Homo sapiens: one gene and its partners. The protein of the gene in region 1 purifies or fractionates together with the protein of each later gene. This does not show direct contact. Each region holds a gene or a part of one and is shown in the gene's direction. Other genes may lie near its edges.

Evidence for each region.
Region 2: the proteins of CRTAP (region 1) and TOM1L1 fractionate together in Homo sapiens (co-fractionation; one large-scale study listed by BioGRID). This does not show direct contact.
Region 3: the proteins of CRTAP (region 1) and AKAP10 purify together in Homo sapiens (tandem affinity purification; one large-scale study listed by IntAct). This does not show direct contact.
Region 4: the proteins of CRTAP (region 1) and MGARP fractionate together in Homo sapiens (co-fractionation; one large-scale study listed by BioGRID). This does not show direct contact.
Region 5: the proteins of CRTAP (region 1) and HK1 fractionate together in Homo sapiens (co-fractionation; one large-scale study listed by BioGRID). This does not show direct contact.
Region 6: the proteins of CRTAP (region 1) and ARMC9 fractionate together in Homo sapiens (co-fractionation; one large-scale study listed by BioGRID). This does not show direct contact.

Annotation. Positions count from the first base shown.
Region 1 is NC_000003.12:33,117,014-33,120,513, forward strand, and holds part of CRTAP (cartilage-associated protein isoform 1 precursor), read left to right. Parts: intron 1-3,330; coding exon 3,331-3,480; intron 3,481-3,500. UniProt on the Homo sapiens protein: Necessary for efficient 3-hydroxylation of fibrillar collagen prolyl residues.
Region 2 is NC_000017.11:54,945,852-54,949,351, forward strand, and holds part of TOM1L1 (TOM1-like protein 1), read left to right. Parts: intron 1-1,409; coding exon 1,410-1,461; intron 1,462-3,500. UniProt on the Homo sapiens protein: Probable adapter protein involved in signaling pathways. Interacts with the SH2 and SH3 domains of various signaling proteins when it is phosphorylated. May promote FYN activation, possibly by disrupting intramolecular SH3-dependent interactions.
Region 3 is NC_000017.11:19,967,829-19,971,328, reverse strand, and holds part of AKAP10 (A-kinase anchor protein 10, mitochondrial isoform 1 precursor), read left to right. Parts: intron 1-2,867; coding exon 2,868-2,915; intron 2,916-3,500. UniProt on the Homo sapiens protein: Differentially targeted protein that binds to type I and II regulatory subunits of protein kinase A and anchors them to the mitochondria or the plasma membrane.
Region 4 is NC_000004.12:139,265,665-139,267,945, reverse strand, and holds the end of MGARP (protein MGARP), read left to right. Parts: intron 1-904; coding exon 905-1,347; 3' UTR 1,348-1,781; downstream 1,782-2,281. UniProt on the Homo sapiens protein: Plays a role in the trafficking of mitochondria along microtubules. Regulates the kinesin-mediated axonal transport of mitochondria to nerve terminals along microtubules during hypoxia.
Region 5 is NC_000010.11:69,391,847-69,395,346, forward strand, and holds part of HK1 (hexokinase-1), read left to right. Parts: intron 1-278; coding exon 279-462; intron 463-3,103; coding exon 3,104-3,259; intron 3,260-3,500. UniProt on the Homo sapiens protein: Catalyzes the phosphorylation of various hexoses, such as D-glucose, D-glucosamine, D-fructose, D-mannose and 2-deoxy-D-glucose, to hexose 6-phosphate (D-glucose 6-phosphate, D-glucosamine 6-phosphate, D-fructose 6-phosphate, D-mannose 6-phosphate and 2-deoxy-D-glucose 6-phosphate, respectively).
Region 6 is NC_000002.12:231,359,131-231,362,630, forward strand, and holds part of ARMC9 (lisH domain-containing protein ARMC9), read left to right. Parts: intron 1-1,623; coding exon 1,624-1,753; intron 1,754-3,500. UniProt on the Homo sapiens protein: Involved in ciliogenesis. It is required for appropriate acetylation and polyglutamylation of ciliary microtubules, and regulation of cilium length. Acts as a positive regulator of hedgehog (Hh)signaling.

The DNA of each region.
Region 1 (3,500 bases):
GGAGGATCACTTGAGCCCAGAAAGTCAAGGCTGCAGTGAGCTGTGATCTTACCACTGCACTCCAGCCTGGGTGACAGAACAAGACTCTTGTGTCAAAAAAAAGTGATGTTTACGTGTTTAAACTCTGTTTATGGATAGAGAGGAAAAGATGGGTGGCAGGCACATACATTCTACCTGGCACCTGAAGGCTGGAGGTCGATATGAAGGTAGATAGTGCGCTGTGGCAGGACATGGATAAATGTTACTCTGCTGTTCTGAGTTGCAGTTCTCTGTTTCAGTGATTAAGGAGAAATGCCTCAATTGATCACTGGAATAGCAATGGTGGGTTCCGACTGCCAGAGGGAGGCGAGGAGGTTTGGATGTGTGCTCTTGTAGAAAAGGGCTGTGCTACTGGTGTGCAGCCTCAGGTGCATCATAGGTTTCTCGTCACCAGCCTACTCTAGGTCCATGTCATTAGCTTTCTTTGGGTTCTCTCCACAATTACCATCTTCCACGAAAAACTCATTTTTCTCATAGGCCAAGCAAAAAGTAGGCCGGAGCACTTCATCAAATCCTTAATGACTGTTGAGCTCTAACCTGGACAGAGAACACTGACTCACAGGCACTGTTAACCCCAGGCCTTGCCTGGCTGTGGCCTCTAACTCCCCGGAACCACAGGGCCTGCCTCTGTGTCATGGCTGATTTAGGGTGGCTCATGCTGGTGGCTGTATCTCAGGAACCCAAGGCAAGGTGGTTCCCTCCATCCCTACCACCTTCTCCAAAATCTGCCTGGGGTCTGTCAGAGGTTTGGTAGCCAAGATGTGTCTCCATGTTCCAGCTGCAGAGCCTGAGTTGAAGTAAATAAAATCACTCTTTTCTCTTCAGGAAGAGATTCCGTTTTGTAAAACATCCTAAGTTAGAAGCCTTAAAAATCCTACTCTGTGCCCCTCTTTCTATTCCTTTCTTTCTTTCTTTCTTTCTTTTTTGAGACGGAATCTCACTGTGTCACCCAGACTGGAGTGCAGTGGTGCGATCCTGGCTCACTGCAACCTCCGCCCCCCGGGTTCAAGTGATTCTCCTGCCTCAGCCTCCCGAGTAGCTGGGATTACAAGCACCTGCCACTGTGCCTGGCTAATTTTTGTCTTTTTAGTAGAGATGGGGTTTCATCATCTTGGCCAGGCTGATCTTGGACTCCTGACCTCGTGATCCACCCACCTCGACCTCCTAAAGTGCTGGGATTACAGGCATGAGCCACTGCTCCCGGCCTCTGTGCCCCTCTTTCTAAGTGCTGTTCTGAGAATTAGTGACTCTAATTTCACTGGCAAATGCTTTAAAAGGCAGCATTCATACCCTCTCCCTTCCTTCCAGCTGAAGACTAGCCTTTTTCTGGCCAGGAGTGTGAAGCTTTCTGTAGGGCTGTTTTAAAGGCAGCCCTGCCACAAGCCACTAATTGGCATTCCCAAAACATCAGCATTGACATCTGGGAGTCTGCCCTCATCACCACCCACCACTTCTCTGATGTGGCCACTGCCATTGTCTCAAAATGACTTGGTTCCAATTCTGGGGCAATTCGGTACCGATATATGCCATCCTATGACTCTTAGAAGTCTAGGGTATACCAAATATTCCTTTATTTTCTCTGTCTAAACCGAATTCCCTAATTCCCGCCTTGGAGCGTCCCTCTGGATTGGCTGAGTCTCTGTGCACATGCACAGGTGCCTGCCCTTCTCCCTACTAGGTTGTGCCAAGAGTCCATCAGCATGGGGGCCCTCTGGTTGGTGGTCATGAGTCCTCACAGGGAGGCCTCTGCATCCTTATTTGCCTGCCCTCCTGAGGTCCTGCCATAACATACCTGTTCTTCCTGAGGACTTCTGCCGTCTTGAACACTGCCGATAAGTGCCAGCCCTGAAGCTCCGGGGCCCGCAGCCCTGCTGCTCTCACAGATCCCAAGGGAAACTTTTTTCCTAGCCTGGGAGATTCCCTTTCTCCCTCTTCTTCTCCCAGGCCAGTCAGCTTCTTCCTGCAGCTCCTCTCCAATTTCTTTCTCCCCTCAAACCTGTCAGGCTCTTTTGTGAGTGCAGGCTTTTTTCAAGTGAATAATTTGCTGGTTCTGACCAGATATCTACCTCCCCTGAGACAGTGAAACTCAGAATCATTGGCCCCTTCAATGGAGAGAAGACAGAGGGGAAAAGAGAGGAAAATGTGAATTAATTTTATTATATTTTATGGTCATAATGTCATTATGTTCAAATCACAGATACTTATTGTGTCCTGCCTTGTCCTGAGGACTGTGTGAGGCACCAGGAATCCAGATAATGAATGACACACAGCTGGGTCCCCCGAGGATCATAGTCTGATGGGGGAGATAGACGTACCACTGAGATTGTAGGGTGGCGTAAAATGCGGGAAGACAGAACCCAGAACTAGCCCAACAGAGAGGCTCTTAATTGAGGCCACTAGGAGACAGGGAGAACTTAACAGAATATATGGTCCATGCAGGTGGGGATTTTTTTTTCCTGTTTTGCTTATTGTTATAGACCCACAACCTAGAAATGGTGCTCTTGTAATATGACGTTTATTGCTGCATGAATGGATGAATAAGTGAGGAGGTGGTGGAGTCATTGAGAATGTTAGCAGAAGGTCTGTGGGGGATTTGGGAAAACAATATATTTGTCAAGGTGCCAGTGGAAAAGATATGGTGCAGTCATATTGGGTAATTGGAGGAAAGTTTAAGAAGGTGGTTATTTACAAAGGTGTGTGCAGTGCATGGGGAATCCACAAGAGATAGTGTTCTGCCACAGGGGTGATAGCAGTGGGATATGACCAACCCTAGGCCAAAAGGGGCAGGGGAGAGAGCAGTGATTGAAACCGGGAAGGAGGGAGACTCTATGGAGAGGGTCACCTTGAGAAGAACTGTGATCTTCAATTAAGGGACATAGCAGCCCAAGAGGACTGTGCAGGGAGGGAACCAGGAAATGAAATAACATGACCTTACTCTCTTCCCTTCCTCAGTCATCTACTGGGGCTCCTCATGGGTGAACCTCTTTGGAAGCCAGAGAGCGAGGGAGTCTGTTGTTATAGTCCACACAGGCCAGCCTCCTGGGGCATGTAGCCAGTGCAGAGTAGATTGGGAAAGGCAGACCGAGGCCATCCAGACAGTCGCTTTCAGGAAATCAGCACTTGTCTCACAGTGCCTGGACTTGGTCTTGAGGGGCCCTGGAAGTCATGGAACCTTTAGCTGGAAAAGTTATAGCAACACAAAGTTTCTGAAGGACTAAGCAGATATTCTTGTTTTACAAAAATTACCACTTAGCATCCATGGAGTAGCTTTTATGTTCTTTGTCCTTTTAGGCAAATAATCTCCCCAAAGCCATCGCCGCTGCTCACACCTTTCTACTGAAGCATCCTGATGACGAAATGATGAAGAGGAACATGGCATATTATAAGAGCCTGCCTGGTGCCGAGGACTACATTAAAGACCTGGAAACCAAGTCATATGAAGTATGTTTGGATTTTTATGT
Region 2 (3,500 bases), on another chromosome or scaffold:
TCTGTGTCCTCTTGGCATCGATATCTGTTATTGTCTTCTCATGCAAGTTGAAGTTTTCATGGTTCTTCATATGCCTCATAATTTTGGATTCTATCTTGGACATTTTTAATGTTTTATTAGGAGACTCTTGGTCTTAATTTAAATCACATCAAGAATGTTATTTTGATTTTAGCATGTAAACAACCTGGCTAGATTCATTCCACAGTTTTAGCCTTCTTCTATGGGCGGTGGCTCCAATGTCAGCTACATTTTCAAAGCCTTTGCAGTGCCATTCAAATATGTCTCATGTATGTTCCATCCTGTGGTCAGTCTAAGGTGGCAGGTTGTTTGTTCACTTCTCACCGTTTTTGACATTGTGACTGAGATGGGATCCATGCATGCCCAGGTCAGGGGGTGAGCTCAGTATTTCATAAACAACTTCATGAGGTTGTTTTCCTGAGTCCTCCATCATCGTGATTTATCTGGTACTTTCTAGTTTCCTGGGACTCCCCTTTTTGCTTCTCCAGTCATAAAGCTGGAGCTTTAGTTACCCTATGATACCACACATTTCCTTGACTATGCTTATGTCTGACTAAATGGCAGGACAGAAAGGAAAAAAGCTGTGGGTATCACAGCTCCTATTGAAGAGGAAGATTCTTCTGTGTTTCAATTTCCTACAAGTCCCATTGCCTCGGCTGTCGCTACAGCCACTTTGGGGTTGCCTGTGGTTTGGGTTGTGAGAAAACAGAGAGAAGAGGACAAAAAAGGGACAAGAGATTTCTACATTCTGAGTGTTAGGATTGTTTCCCTTTCCTGCTTCTTGAGTGAGAATGAGAACCCTTCTCCTAGAGCTCTGTCTGTTCTCATTGATGCCTGGGGTTCAGACTGCATTGCATTTGGTCAGGAAATATGAAGAGGCAAAAAACGGTAAATTCACCAACAGTTCAGTGATACTTGAATTCTGGTCTTCTTTCCCAATCAGGCTGCTCCTATTATTCAGAGTCCTCAAATACTTGCTCTATGCATTCCGTCCACCTTTAAGTGACATTCAGTGGAGAGACAGAGTGCAGTACGTTTGCTCCGCTTTATCCTGGACCGGAGACCTCACAGCTTTCTTCTTAACCTGTGTTCTATACTACTTCTCATCCTTTAAGAAACGATGGGGTGGTAGCTACACTGATGGAAAGACTAAAGGCTCTGGTCTTAGTGTTCCGTGCACACTCCACAGTCTCAGGGCTCCCACCACCCATGGCATCATAACCTGATGTGCACTAAAACCAATTGTTTTATAAACAGTTATTACAAAATGACACTTTATGCAGTCTGAAGGTACCTTTTAGGTTTTGTTTTTAGACTAGGAAAATTATCTTACTTTTTGCATTTGTGTTCTCACTGTAGGGTAATCATTCTGTGTTATCACACTATCCTAGGTTTGCCCAAAGGACCAGCCAAAACCTCACCTCAAGCCACGCATATGATAATGTAAGTAACAAAACTCTTTTCTAGCAGTGCATCTAGTCAGCAGATTATTGTAGCCAGAAAAGAACTCATGGTCATTAATTCCCATGTTCTGCTCAGTATTGTGTTGATGCGCAGCCCCTGTTAGCAAGATGGTAAGGATCAAAATTTTTTTGGAGTTTGTATTTGCTATCTCCACTTCCTTTCCTTGTATTCTCTTTGACTTCAGACATGCTCTTCTACCACTCTATGGACATAACTCTTGTCAAGGTCACTGGTGACTTCTGTATTGTGAAATTTAGAACTGCAGTTCCATAGTCCCTCATTTTATCAGCAACAAATGACAAAGTTGATCACTTCCTCCTTCTTGCACACATGGCTTTCAGACACCAGTCACTTTGGTTCTTCTCCTGCCTCACGTTCATTTCTTCTCCATCTCTTTTGGTGGCTCTTCCTCCTCTACTGACCTTTTCTTGTTGGAGACCCCAGGGATCAGGCTTCAGACTTTTCTATCTACATTCATTCCTCTGTGGTCTTTTGGTCTCATATCTTGAAATAACCATTCAATTTTTGACAACCTACAAGTTTGTATCTCTTGTAGCCCAGACCCCTTCTCTAAACTCAGAACTCATATATCTACTTTCCACTTAATGTCTCCTCTTGATTTCTTCCCAGTCTCCACTCTCAACCTGCCCTTCCTGCAGACTTGCCACCTCAGTCAATGGCCACTCTGCTCTTTGCTGCATAGGTCAAAAACCTTGGGTAATAGCGCTTGACATCCACCTTTTTACTTTTACTTTTGCCTTTTACTTTTAAAATATGTCAATTATTCAGCCACTTCTCACCACCTCCACTTCTGCATCTTAGTCCAAGTCACCATCGGATGGACATTGCAGTGGCCTCTAAGGGAAGCCCTGTTTCAACCTTTGCCTCCCTTCGCATCCCTCCCACCCACCTCATAATCTGTTCTCAAAACAAAAACAGGGGCATTCTTTTTTAAAAAGTGAAGTCATATTATGTCACTCATTTGCTCAAAACCCACCTGTGATTTTCTTCCTCACTCCATTTTACTCAGTAAATGCCTGAAATGCCGATCTGACCGCACCCGTCACCTCTCCAGGCTCACCTCCTGCCCCTCTCTACCTTGGCTCACTCTATTCCAACCACACTGGCCTCCCCCACTTCAGAGACTGTGAACTTGTGTCCTCTCCAGTAACCACAAGACTCACTTTAGTCAGGCTCTGCTTAAACGTCCCCAGTGATGAGACATTTCCTGACCACGACCTATTAGAGCAGTATTCCACCCCAGTCTCTCTCCCACCCACTACTCTGCTTTTATATTAGAGCACATGCCATTGGATATCTGTTCACATTTGTTGATTGTCTGAGTCATGAGGGCAGGAACTTGGTCTGCTTTGTTTATTGCTTTATTAATAGTGCCTGGCAGCTGGTAGGTGGCCAGGATATATTTGTGGAGTGAATAAGGAAAATTATGAGAAGAGATATTTCTAATTAAGATTCTAATATTTTATCAATCCTGATTTTGTTGTGTCACTGAGTGCCTCTCTGTAGATTTAAATTTTTTTTTTCCTACTCAAGGCTGAGATTTTATATTCAGAGTGAAACAACAGAGAATCTGGCCTGAGCCATTGAATCTGCTTCATTTTTAAAAGCAATATATGGTTTTTTTTTCACAGTTTCTATGGGAAATAGGGTGCATTAGGCATAAAATCAGACAAAAATATAGTAAATTCTTGTTTTTGAGACAGGGTCTCATTCAGTCACCTAGGCTAGAATATATAGCATGATCATATGATCATAACTCACTGCAGCTTCAAACCCCTAGGCTCGTGATCCTCCTGCCTTGGTCTCTGGGGTAGCTGGGACTACAGGTGTGAGCCACCATGCCCAGCTATTTTTTTTTTTTTTTTGTAGAGTTGGGGTCTTGCTGTTGCCTAGGCTGATCTTGAACTCCTGGGCTCAAGTAATCCTCCCACCTATCCTCCCAAATTGCTGAGATAACAGGCATGAGCCACCATGCCCAGCAGAAAAGTAGTAAATCT
Region 3 (3,500 bases), on another chromosome or scaffold:
CCATGTTGGCCAGGCTGGTCTTGAACTCCTGACCTCAAGTGTTCCACCCAACTTGGCCTCCCAAAGTGCTAGGATTACAGGCGTGAGCCACCGTGCTCAGCCATTTGCGTGATTTTTAAAGATGTGCAGAATAATGCCATTAAAAAAAATACACATACATGTATATATATACACGTTTGGCTGGGTGTGGTGGCTCACACCTGTAATCCCAGCACTTTGGGAGGCTGAGGCAGGAGGATCACTTGAGCCCAGGTGTACAAGACTAGCCTGGGCGAGATAGCAAGACCCCATCTCAACAACAGAAAGGATAATTAGGTATGGTGGCATGAGAGGATCACTTGAGCCCAGGAGTTCGAGTGTTATCAGGCCACTGCACTCTAGCCTGGACAACAAAGCAAGACCGTGTCTCAAAAAAATAAAAATAAAAAGTATTTGTATGTGGTCATAGTCAAAAAACGTACATGGAAGGAAAATGTCTTTATTTATTTATTTATTTTTTTTTTTTTAAGACAGAGTCTTGCTCTGTCACCCAGGCTGGGGTACAGTGGTGTAATCTCAGCTCACCGCAATCTCGGCCTCCCGGGTTCAAGCGATTCTTCTGCCTCAGCCTTCTAAGTAGCTGGGACTACAGGTACCCGCCACCACACCCTGCTAATTCTTGTGTTTTCAGTAGAGACAGGGTTTCACCATGTTGGCAAGGCTGGTCTCGAACTCCTGACCTTAAGTGAGCCACCCGCCTTGGCCTCCCAAAGTCCTGGGATTACAGGTGTGAGCCACTGCGCTTGGCCAGGAAATATCTAATTTAGTAAGTATTTATATCTGGGAAAGGAAGGGTCAGGTGGTGATTCATAGGAACTCTAAAGTCTATGTATAATACTTAGGGGGACAGAAGGAAATAAAGCAAAATGCTGATATTTGATTGTTGAGTTGTGTATATGTTAGAAGTATAACATAGGAGATCTGATTGATAGTAGGAGAATGTTTTTAGGTGGTAAAAGTGGAACCGTGGTGGTTTGTTTTGGCAGTAGAATCAGTTGGTCATAGTTTGTATGTGGAAGGTAATAAACAGACCATGTTAAGGATGACTTCCGGAATTTTGGTCTGAGTAGTGGGTGGATGACAGTGTCATTCATGAGGGAAGATGAAGACTGAGGTAGGAACAGGTTTGGGAGAAGATGACATGTTCCCTTTTAGACAAGTGGAATTATGGAAGATGGCAGGTAGGTGGTTAGCTATATGAATTTGAGATAAAAGATTTAGGATGGAGATATAAATTTAGGAGTAACAGCGTATCTATGGTATTGTAAGCCTTAAGAATGGGTAGGATCAGCCAGGAAATACAGATGTATATGCAGAAGAGAGGAGTCAAGGAAGCCAAGACAAGTTAATGTTTAAAGTGAGTGATGTAGTCCATGGGCAGATGCTGCTGAGAGGGCTGCAAACACCAGTGACCCTACAACATTTTTAAATGTCGTCTTCCTGACAGCAGTGATCAGTACCTGCAACGATCTTATTTATTTTTTTCATGTTAGTCTCCACACACTTGAATGTAGACTTTTTGAAGGCAAAATCATTGCCTTTTCTGAGCTGGGAGCATGTCTGGCACATACCAAGCACTCAACAGTTGATGTATTGACTTCATCCAGATACTCTGAGGGCGAGTTATTTCCTGCTACTAGCCTTTCACCTTTCAATGTTTAAGAGCACAAATACAGAGATGGGCACGTTTTGGCATTTCTTATTTTGATAACCTTTTCCTGGTAAGATTTTTTAATGTTGAAAAAAAAAAACAAGAAAAGAGGGTTAAAAATAGTCTTATGTCAGATCCTGTGATAGAATTCACACTTGGCTTAAGCTGCTGGGCACCTTCCTATCTTGGATGTCATATTAGCTTATCTACAGCAGAATTTTTACTGTTTTATGTAGTAAGGAAGCAATTATATGATTATTTTACAGACAAATTATTCTTTATCTTTTATTTTTTTAGACGGAGTCTCTCTTTGTCTCCCAGGCTGGAGTACAGTGTCGCGATCTCGGCTCACTGCAACCTCCGCCTCCTGGGTTCAAGCAATTCTCTGCCTCAGCCTCCCAAGTAGCTGGGCTTACAGGTGTCCGCCACCACACCCAGCTCATTGTTTTGTATTTTTAGTAGAGATGGGGTTTCACCATGTTGGCCAGGCTGGTCTTGAGCTACTGACCTCAGGTGATCCACCCGCCTTGGCATCCCAAAGTGCTGGAATTACAGGCGTGAGCCACCGTGCCTGGCCCAGACAAATTATTATACTCTGAGTGTTAGAGGCTTAGGATGTTTTCACTTGATGCTATGGGAGGAATAAGTAATAAGATATGATACACAACCAAAGACCTTTCTTCACTATGCTTCTAGTAGCTAGTACTATGGATGACACATGGTAATAATATTGGTTAGCATTTGTCCTCAATTTACTGTGCTAGTTACTCTTCTAAGCCCCTTACAGGTATATATTTTTTTTCATCAATAATCCTCTAAGGTAGTTTTTATTATTGACCTAATTTTATAAATCAAGAAAATTAAGACCCAGAGAAGTAAGTAACTTGTCCAAGATCACATGGCTTATAAGTGGTAGAGCCAGAATTTGACCCCAGATGTTGTGACTACATTGTCTCTCCATAAGCAGGTTCAACTCTTTTGACTGGATGCTGTTCCAAGGTCACTTCCTTAGAGAAGCCTTTGCTGACAACTACCCTCCTGTGCCCTCCTCCAAGGCTGTCCATTGTTCTAGAACTTTGAATACTCATCTTAGAATAAAGCTGGTCTAATTTTTACAGTGTTATAGAATGGATCTCTGACTGCAAAAGTTGGTCATAATTATCTTTTTATGTTCTAGTGAAAGGCAAAGAACAAGAGAAGACCTCAGATGTGAAGTCCATTAAAGGTAAGTTCTGCCCTTGGCAGTCCACTGCATTAAAAAGTGATGTGCTTTGCATTTGTGAGTTCTTTAATCCTGTTATACTCTCTCTTTTGGCATTAATCATTTCTGCCTTATTTTATAATTACTTATGATTTTGATTTATTTCCCTCTTTAACCTGTATAATGCTTTAACATCTAGCATATAATAAGTAGGCTTTTTTTTTTTTTTTTTTTTTGGAGACGGAGTCTTGCTCTGTTACCCAGGCTGGAGTGCAGTGGCGCGATCTTGGCTCACTGCAAGCTCTGTCTCCCGGGTTCACACCATTCTCCTGCCTCAGCCTCCCCAGCAGCTGGGACTACAGGTGCACGGCGCCACGCCTGGCTAATTTTTTGTATTTTTTAGTAGAGACAGAGTTTCACCATGTTAGCCAGTATGGTCTCGATCTCCTGACCTTGTGATCCGCCCGCCTCGGCCTCCCAAAGTGCTGGGATTACAAGCGTGAGCCACCGCACCCGGCCGTAAGTAGGCTTTTTTTACCTTAATTTTATTTTTTTGAGATGGAGTCTTGCTCTTATCCCCAGGCTGGAGTGCAGTGGTGCCATCTCGGC
Region 4 (2,281 bases), on another chromosome or scaffold:
GACAGGGTCTCACTATGTTGCCCAGGCTGGTCTTGATCTCCTGGCCTCATGTGATCCCTCCTGCCTCAGCCTCCCAAAGTGCTGGGATTACAGGCATATGCCACTATGCCTAGCCACTTCTTGCTTTAAACCATACTTTTTTCCAAGCTATTATTATCAATTACTATGATCACTATTTAGGGATAGAGATATTAGGGGCTTATGAATCAGTTTTAACCTGTCATGACAATAATAAGAAACAGAATATCATCAATACATATTATTGAATATAATCATGCGGTTGTTTATAATACTAATAAGCATTTGCATAGAACTTTTTATTTTAATCCCCTTTTCATATACAGTATTTTAATTAATCTTTACAATAACCCTGTGCAGTAGATATTATCAATACCCTATTTTACAGATGACAAAAATGAGATTGAGAGAGGATTAGTGATTTCTGAGTCACCAGCTAGGAACTTGGCTACTCTTCCATGCTGTCTCATATGAAAGGTGAATAGGATAGCTACTTATTTTTGTATTCTTCATATTTGCCTAAGTAATATATTCAAGTGTGTTTTTTTTTAAGTTCAAAGAGTTTACAGAAAAGCAGATCCCCCATTTTCCCTCCAAGAGGCAACCAATAGAACCAGTTTCTTGGAATCCTCCTGGAGAGTTTTTGCAAATACAATTATCTAGGCATACAACTTACCCCCCTCCTGCTCCAACCTCATTTTGCCCTAACAATAGTAGCAGACTGTATACATTGTTCTTTTTTTGCTGTTTCACTTGAGAGTCTACCTTGAAGACTGTTACACATCAGTGCATGTAGTTCTGTCTTAGGTGTTTAAACGACCGCAGTGTTTCATTGCCTTCCCACGATCTTTAAATTAATACCTTGCTTAATGACTAATTCTTAAAGGTGAAAAGGAGAATGTTGCGGAAACTGAGAAAGCAAGTTCAGAAGCCCCAGAAGAACTTATAGTGGAAGCTGAGGTGGTAGATGCTGAAGAAAGTCCCAGTGCTACAGTTGTGGTCATAAAAGAGGCATCTGCCTGTCCAGGTCACGTGGAGGCTGCTCCGGAGACCACAGCAGTCAGTGCTGAAACCGGGCCAGAGGTCACAGATGCAGCGGCGAGGGAAACCACGGAAGTAAACCCTGAAACAACCCCAGAGGTTACAAATGCTGCCCTGGATGAAGCTGTCACCATCGATAATGATAAAGATACAACAAAGAACGAAACCTCTGATGAATATGCTGAACTAGAAGAAGAAAATTCTCCAGCTGAGTCAGAGTCCTCTGCTGGAGATGATTTACAGGAGGAAGCCAGTGTTGGCTCTGAGGCTGCTTCGGCTCAAGGCTAATCTCCAGCCGGTAGACATTTCAGCAACAAATGCCATAGGGTGTCTGATAAGTGCTTTTGTGTTTTTAGTACACTTAGTTTAAAAAAAAAAAGACTTATTTTCTAGAAAACGTTAATGGGTCTTGAAGATTTTTGGCATCCACTGATAGATTTTAGGACTGAGAGACTTGAGATTGTACATTTCTTACTACTCTTCTACTGTCTGAGATCAGAATATGACATTGCAGTAAAGAGCTTAAATAGTTTCATCTTTGGTTTTTTTTTCTAGACACTTTTCTTTTATCCCAGTCATCTCTGAATTTACATTTTATATTAAAGAAATTGAGCTATCCATACAACCTGTATTTACTTTAATTTCACTATGCTTTCAGCTTACTTTATTGTATGATATGTAGGTCTAAAATATAGTTTGAGTCAAATAAAATTAGAAAAGCTTTGGTGCTTCTACTTTTTTCACTAATATTTGCATGTACAAATAATACATATTAACATACAGGTACATAACATCACATGAGAAATGTAGGCTTTCGTAATATTATTGAAGAAAGAGCATATAATCTATGGAGAACCCTGCATGTAACAATATGTATGCCCTCTCCCATCTATAGTACTTACACAGGGGACTATGTAGATATTTTCTGTTTCAGTTCAGTTCAAACAATATTTATTGAAGATTAGCACTTTGTGCCAGGAATCTTTCATTCATTCACGTGTTCAACAAATATTAGCTGAGCACTTACAACATAATAGGTATTGTTTTAAGTGCTCCCGGTTTATATTCTAGAGTGGAACCAGGTAAGAAGACAAATGAGAAAATGATATAGTGTGTTAGGTACTGATAAGTGCTAAGGATAAAAGTAACGAAAATAAAAGGATTGTAAGTGTTAGTCTGAGGTGGAAGTTGTAATTTTAGATAGGATGGCCAAAAGAGGCCT
Region 5 (3,500 bases), on another chromosome or scaffold:
CTTCTATTAAAATAAACATAACCCTGCCTGGACGGGTGAACACATTGGCTCTTGGTTGAAAGTCAGCTAAGCAGGTGCCCTCTGGGTGATGTGGCTCAGACTCTCCATTTACATTTCAAATTTTTCCATTTCAAAATTGGGAAAGAAAAACTATTACTTTGTTCATCACAAAAAACGTGCCCCCTGCCTGTGGAACCTCAGGCCCCAGACCCCAGGCCCAGTTGCAAGACCCCCAAATGCAAGGCCACCGCTCCTCATTGCCCCCTCGTGTGTTCCAGGGACCGGCAGCAATGCCTGCTACATGGAGGAGATGAAGAACGTGGAGATGGTGGAGGGGGACCAGGGGCAGATGTGCATCAACATGGAGTGGGGGGCCTTTGGGGACAACGGGTGTCTGGATGATATCAGGACACACTACGACAGACTGGTGGACGAATATTCCCTAAATGCTGGGAAACAAAGGTAACCCCGCCTGGTGGAGAGGACACTCACAGTCAGGGTGGGGGCAGCACTTGGCTGCATTCTGCCACTTGCAGTGGAAGAAGTTTCTAGGAGGAGAGGTCTGAACAGAGGTTTCAAGACTGGACCCCCTGGCTCACTCCTGACCTTTGTCTTTTGGACAGCAGAGAACCAGGGAGGACAGACCCCCAACATGGTACAAGATGGCCCAGGGTTGATGCCTGTCTAGGGGCTGCCTGTGACTGTTTTTTAGCCTGGAGGATTCTGGCCTTCCGGTCCCCTTGCTGTGTTCCTTTCCCATCAGAATAACAAGGGGGTGGGGTGAGGGTGGCTGGGCGGCAGGTTGGTGTGAAGCAGAGGCCCTGTCGCAATCGTCCTTTCCTCCGTGAGCCTCCTGCACCACCTAGTGGCCTTGTGGAGCTTTGCAGCTCAGGTCTCAGGTACCATGTCTGAAATGGCAGTGTCTGCCCTTTGTCTCAAGCCCCCAGGAATCAGGCCATCCTCTGCCACGGCCAGGATGAGTTGGTCCAAGTTGTCTCCCTAGGAGCAGAAAGAAGGGCTGGAGCAGCACCCAGCATGAGTCACTCCCTAGCCCCCTCAAGGTTTTTGCCTTTTCTAAATACCACCCATGCTGTTATTTACTTAGTGCTTTTCTTCGAATCAGCTTACAGTTTTTTGTTTTTCTTTTTGTTTGAGGTGGAGTTTTGCTCTTGTTGCCCAGGCTGGAGTGCAATGGCGTGATCTCGGCTCACCACAACCTCCACCTCCCGGGTTCAAGCAGTTCTCCTGCCTCAGCCTCCCCAGTAGCTGGGATTACAGGCATACACAACCATGCCCAGCTAATTTTGTATTTTTAGTAGAGACGGGGTTTCTCCATGTTGGTCAGGCTGGTCTTGAACTCCCGACCTCAGGTGATCCGCCTGTCTAGGTCTCCTAAAGTGCTGGGATTACAGGTGTGAGCCACCGCAACCAGCCCTTATAGTCTTTTTCTTTTCTTTTCTTTTCTTTTTTTTTTGAGACAGAGTCTCACCCTGTTGTCCAGGCTAGAGTGCAGTGGTGCGAGCTCAGCTCACTGCCACCTCCTGGGTTCAAGTGATTCTCCTGCCTCAGCCTCCCAGGTAGCTGGGATTACAGGTGCACGGCACCACGCCCAGCTAGTTTTTGTATTTTTGGTAGAGACCAGGTTTCACCATGTTGGTCAGACTGGTCTCGAACTCCTGACCTCAGGTGATTGGCCCGCCTCAGCCTCCCAAAGTGCTGGGATTATAGGCGTGAGCCACCGTGCCCAGTGGCCTTTAAGGTCTTTACTGACATTTAATGAAGGAGGAAAAAGAGGAAGAACCAATAGTACCATAAAGAGATGGTAACTAAAAAATGAGTATAGTGAAGAACCGTGCTATTCAAGTCTAGCTGATGCTGTCGCCTACCAAATGACCTGAACTAAGACCCCCTTTGGGCTGAGTGCAGTCTATCATCAAAGTAATCCCAGCACTTTGGGAGGCCAAGGTGGGAGGATTGCTTGAGCTCAGGAGGTTGAGACCACCCTGGGCAACATAGGGTTGAGACCCTGTCTCTACTAAAAATTAATAACAATAATAACAACAATAATAGTAAGACCCCCTTGGTTAAAAAGCGGGGGGATCAGCAAGTGTTGGAAGGGGTTAAGGACATGTCAGCACCAAACTGGGGTGGTCTTTGTGGTGGAATGAGAAGGACTGGGTGGGACTTCGTAGTGGTGGCCCACCCCTCTGTGATTCCATTCTGTTTCATGTTCTTCCATGGACCACATGAAATAGGAGGAATCCTGGAGTTCCAAATTCCAGGGGACTCTTCTCAGCTTTGGGACACTGGGCTTGGGCATGTGCCATGGAAATGAATCAATCCTTTGTTATTTCTTGAGATCCTTGAGCATGGAGAGGGCAGGAAATTTGAAGTCCCAAGAACAGGTTGACCTCCAGTGTGTTGTGGTCACTGAATTCTCCCTCCTGTGTGGCCTCATCACTCTGCTGTGGGCTTGACCAGTACTCTGGGTATTTGCAAAACCTTTAGAAAAATCTAGAAACTTTCCTTTTTTTTGTCTTCTTGTTCCTTTAAGACTTAGCCCAGTCATTTGCTTATTCTGCAGATAGTTTTTGGGCACTTTCCTGAGGGCCCAGTGCTATGCTATGCTGTGCTGTGCCCTGGGGACTCAGAGCTGAAAAAGACACACATGCCCTGTCCTCTTGGGGCTGTCACTACAGCAGTGGTGGTGGGAGGCAGTGAGCTCAGGTGTGTTGTGAAGGAGGAGAATGGTGAGGTGTGTGGGAACCTGAAACAGGCAGGTAGAACCCAGGATCAGGAGGAGGACAGGCTCTCGGGGAAGTGACCTTGGGGCTGAGAGCTATCAGGCAGCTGAGGAGGGAGACCAGTCTAGCAGGTAGACATGAATGCTGGTGGTTTTGTTTCTGATGTGAGAGAGTGGAGGACTCCCTGGTCCTTCCTGGTCCTCCCACTCTGCCTCTGCGGCAGAGCACAGGGCTGGGCACATGGCTGTTGATGATGCGCTTGAGGGGCAGTAGGAGACGCGGAGTGACCGTGAGACCGAGGGGTGACAGTTCTCCTGGCCACTTCCCATAGACACCCCAGGCCCCTCCTCCTGTCTCAGGTATGAGAAGATGATCAGTGGTATGTACCTGGGTGAAATCGTCCGCAACATCTTAATCGACTTCACCAAGAAGGGATTCCTCTTCCGAGGGCAGATCTCTGAGACGCTGAAGACCCGGGGCATCTTTGAGACCAAGTTTCTCTCTCAGATCGAGAGGTGAGTGGGCAGTGTCTTCCCTGCCAGCGCCCACCCTTCAGAGGTCGCCTGGCTGGTGGATTGTGATGGGGGTGGTAGGGACCCTAGGGGACATTTTGGCCATTTTTGAGGATTTTTTTTCCTCTGGAATAGCAGACCCTGGGCATTTGCATAGTGAAATCTTATAATTTTATTATAAATTACTTTTCTTGGCCTGGTGTGGTGGCTCATGCCTGTAATCCCAGCACTTTGGGAGGCCGAG
Region 6 (3,500 bases), on another chromosome or scaffold:
GCTGGAGTGCAGTGGTGCGATCTTGGCTCACTGCAAACTCCGCCTCCCGGGGTTCAAGTGATTCCCCTGCCTCAGCCTCCTGAGTAGCTGGGATTACAGGCATGTGTTACCATACCCGGCTAATTTTTGTATTTTTAGTAGAGACAGGGTTTTACCATGTTGGCCAGGCTGGTCTCAAACTCCTGGCCTCAAGTGATCTGCCTGCCCCAGCCTCCCAAAGTGGTGGGATTACAGGCGTGAGCCACCGTGCTCAGCTGGTCTCTTGTTCTTGGTGGGACCTCTGAAAGTCTTCAGTGTGGCCTGTGCTGGAGGAAGTAGGAGAGGAGAAGGGGACAGTTGAACCAAGACCACCTCATGGTCTTGGGACACTCCAGCTCAGTTCCTCCTTTTTTATGACCACCCCGTCCCCTACGCTCACACCCCCTGGGAAGCTCCTGGTCCTGGTCCTAGAGGACTTGCCTGGCGTGGGCACAGCTTTGTGACTCCACACGTTGTAATGGGGTTCCCCTGCGTGTAGCCCAGCAATTCGGTGTGACTTCACTCAAGTATTCTCTTGTACACCTACGCTTTTTCTCCTGGCCTTATTCTAAGCACACTGAGCATGTGCCTCCTGTCCTGAAGCTCTATTTCTAGACCCAGATCCAGGTGGAGACCGCCCAGTGCCACCCGCTGGGTTCTGGTATCAGAAATAGATTCTCGTTTGGGTCAAAAGAGAATTATCTGGAAGTCAAAGCCCCTTGCTACAGGGAAACCTGCAGGGAAGATCCCTTTATATTTAAGATTAAACAGATCACATTGCAAAGCCACAGAGGAGCTGCTAAAATGAAAGAGCTGAGAGGAGCTTGGCCTAAGGGAGTCACGGATGCAGCCTCTGTCACAGTGTCGCTGCAGCAGTGACATGGACCCCTTCAGCTGTAGGAGAAGAGGAGAGGCGGGGTGGGGGAAGGGGTGCGTGGCATCTGAGATGCAGGAACATCTGTTCCCAGGCCCTTGGGGAGCCCTCCGTATGCTATGATGCTATCTGGGATTCTCCGTCTGCTTCCCCGTGAAGGGCTCCTGCGTGTCCCGGGTGGCCTGGTTCTGGGTGGGCATCAGCTACAGCACAAGTCACTGGGAGTTAGGGCACTTCCTGGCCACCCTGGGTGTACCGAGTGGTTCAGCATTAAGGAGCCTTGGGCTGCTCGGTGAGGAGCACCCTACCTCTCAGGTTGTTGGTTTTAGCAAATAAAACTACACACCACCCAGTTACATTTGAGTTTCAGATAAGCAAATGGGCCTCCACATTCTGTCTGGGGGCGCCTAGCCATGGCCCAGGGAGACAATTTGTTGTTCTGAGGGCTTTCCAGAGGCTGAGGGGTGCCAGGAAGGCTGAGCGGCCAGGGTGATCTGAACCTCCCTGGGCTGTGCCTGTCACCACCAGCAGTGTGCCTGCCATCCCCCGCTACCTGGCAAGTTCCCGGGCTGCACGAGTAAACAAGTATCCCAAGCCACAGGCGCCAGGGAGCCCGCAGGGCCTGGCCTGGGGTGCGTGCTTTTCTTGGCTTTCCAACCCAGCCCACGAGAGGGCATCCTTAGAGGGGCTCCAGAGCAGATGTGGACTGAACTTTCTCTCCTCCTCCCCAGCAGCCATCATCGCCAAGCCAGGAGAGTGGCTCCCAAGAGGACGCCAGGAAGAGCCTCGCCCAGCCCCCACGGGGACCCCCCGCCAGCCAAGGGAGGCGCCCCAGGACCCAGGCAATGGAGTGACCACCAGGTAAGGGGGATATCACAAGGCCTCGAACCTGACTCTCGGAGCTCTGGGAGTGGGCGCCCCACGCCGGATGCAGAGCACCCAGGAGACCTGGAAGGCTCCTCTGAGGCCCAGCCTCTGACAGGGGAGGCTAAGGAGCAGTGTCAAGATTCCCAGCGGAGTGCAGCCGCCACTCCTGACCACCTCGGAGGGCTGTGCTGCCTGAGAGCCATCAGTCAGACGGGAAGGACACAGCACTCAGAAGCATGCCCATGGGACTAGTTTTCAAAACTGCCAGGCGGACTTGTCCAGGGCTGGGTGATGGGGTGACTTAGGGACAGTGTCCTGTCAGCTTTTTGCATTTGGAGGAAGTGGGCTGTAGGGCAGAAAGATGGAGAAGGAGGTGAGTAAATGGTTTGGCTCAGAGGTCACTTCCTGAAACAGAAACTGGGCCTCCAGGCTGGGGCGTGGTGGCGCACGCCTGTAATCCCAACACTTTGGGAGGCTGAGGCAGGAGGATTGCTTGAGCCCAGGAGTTTGAAACTAGCCTGGGCAACATAGTGAGACCCTGTCTCAAAAAAAAAAAAAAAATCAAAAAACTAAAAAAAAAAAAAGAAAAGAAAAAACTGGACCCCCGAGCAGAAGAAAAAAAAAAATAGTGTCCTCTCTTCCACTGTGCCACGTGAGCACAGACTGGCCCTGTGGGTTATTAGGGGTTCTTTAGGGTCTAGAAAGGACCTTTCCAATCTCGCCAGCTCTTTCTTTTGGATCTGGAGAAACCTGCTCAGGGAGAGGGGCCTGGCCTGGGTCTCAGACCCTGCCTGTCCCTGACCACCAGGCATGCCAGCTGCCCCTCACCACTTCCTCCTGGCCATGAAGGAAGCCAACCTCCTGCGGTAAAATATGGGGCTGGAGCAGGCTCAGCTTAGTTCTGGGGGCCCCCGGAGAGGACAGGCAGGAAGACTGAGCAGAACCTGCACCCACTGGTGGAGAAAATCGGAGAGAGAAAGAGGCAGGAAGAGAAATCAATGGGGAGTGGCAGACAGGAGGAGGATGTAAGAGAAAGGGGGCGCAGACAAGTGTGCTGAGCTTCCTTGGGTGGGATGGGCTAGAAGCCGAAATCGGAACTGTGGGAAGGATGGGAAGGACTTCAAGACCTGGGCTAGGGAAGGGTGGGGGCAGTCCCAGCTATCTTTAAGAAGCACGGGGTCAAAGGTGGCTGCATTACTGGGGGAGGGGCCAAGCCTCTGGACTCCTCCAGTTCCACTGCCAACCTGCCTGGGGACCCAGGGACCTACCTCCCCTACCTGGGCCTCCTCCCCTCTTTCTGTGGCTGAAGAGGAGCTTGTCAGCTAGACCAGGGGTTCTCAGGCTCTCAGCATCCCCCTGAAATGGGGACTCAAAATGAGAGACCTCTGAGGAGTGGGCTAGAGCTATCTCATGCCCCCAGTCCAGACTGGATCCTCCCCTGCGGTTCAGCCAGGCCAAACCTACGCTTCCGGTATAGGCCACTTCTTTTTACTTCCTGCAAATGCTGAGTTCATTTCTGAGGCTCTCCACTGGGGACAGCCCTCTCTCCCCAGAAATAACTGTTTTCACAGTAGGTAGGCAGCCGACCCTGAGGGACCTCATTACATCAAGCAGCGTTGCCTAGCTGGCCCCCCAAGATTCTACTGAGCACAAAGACCCCTCAGGGTCCAACCCAGAGGTGCCCTCCCCTTGGTGTCAGTCACTGAAGCCAGCTCTTATTTTAAGCCTGGGAGTTCAGTGT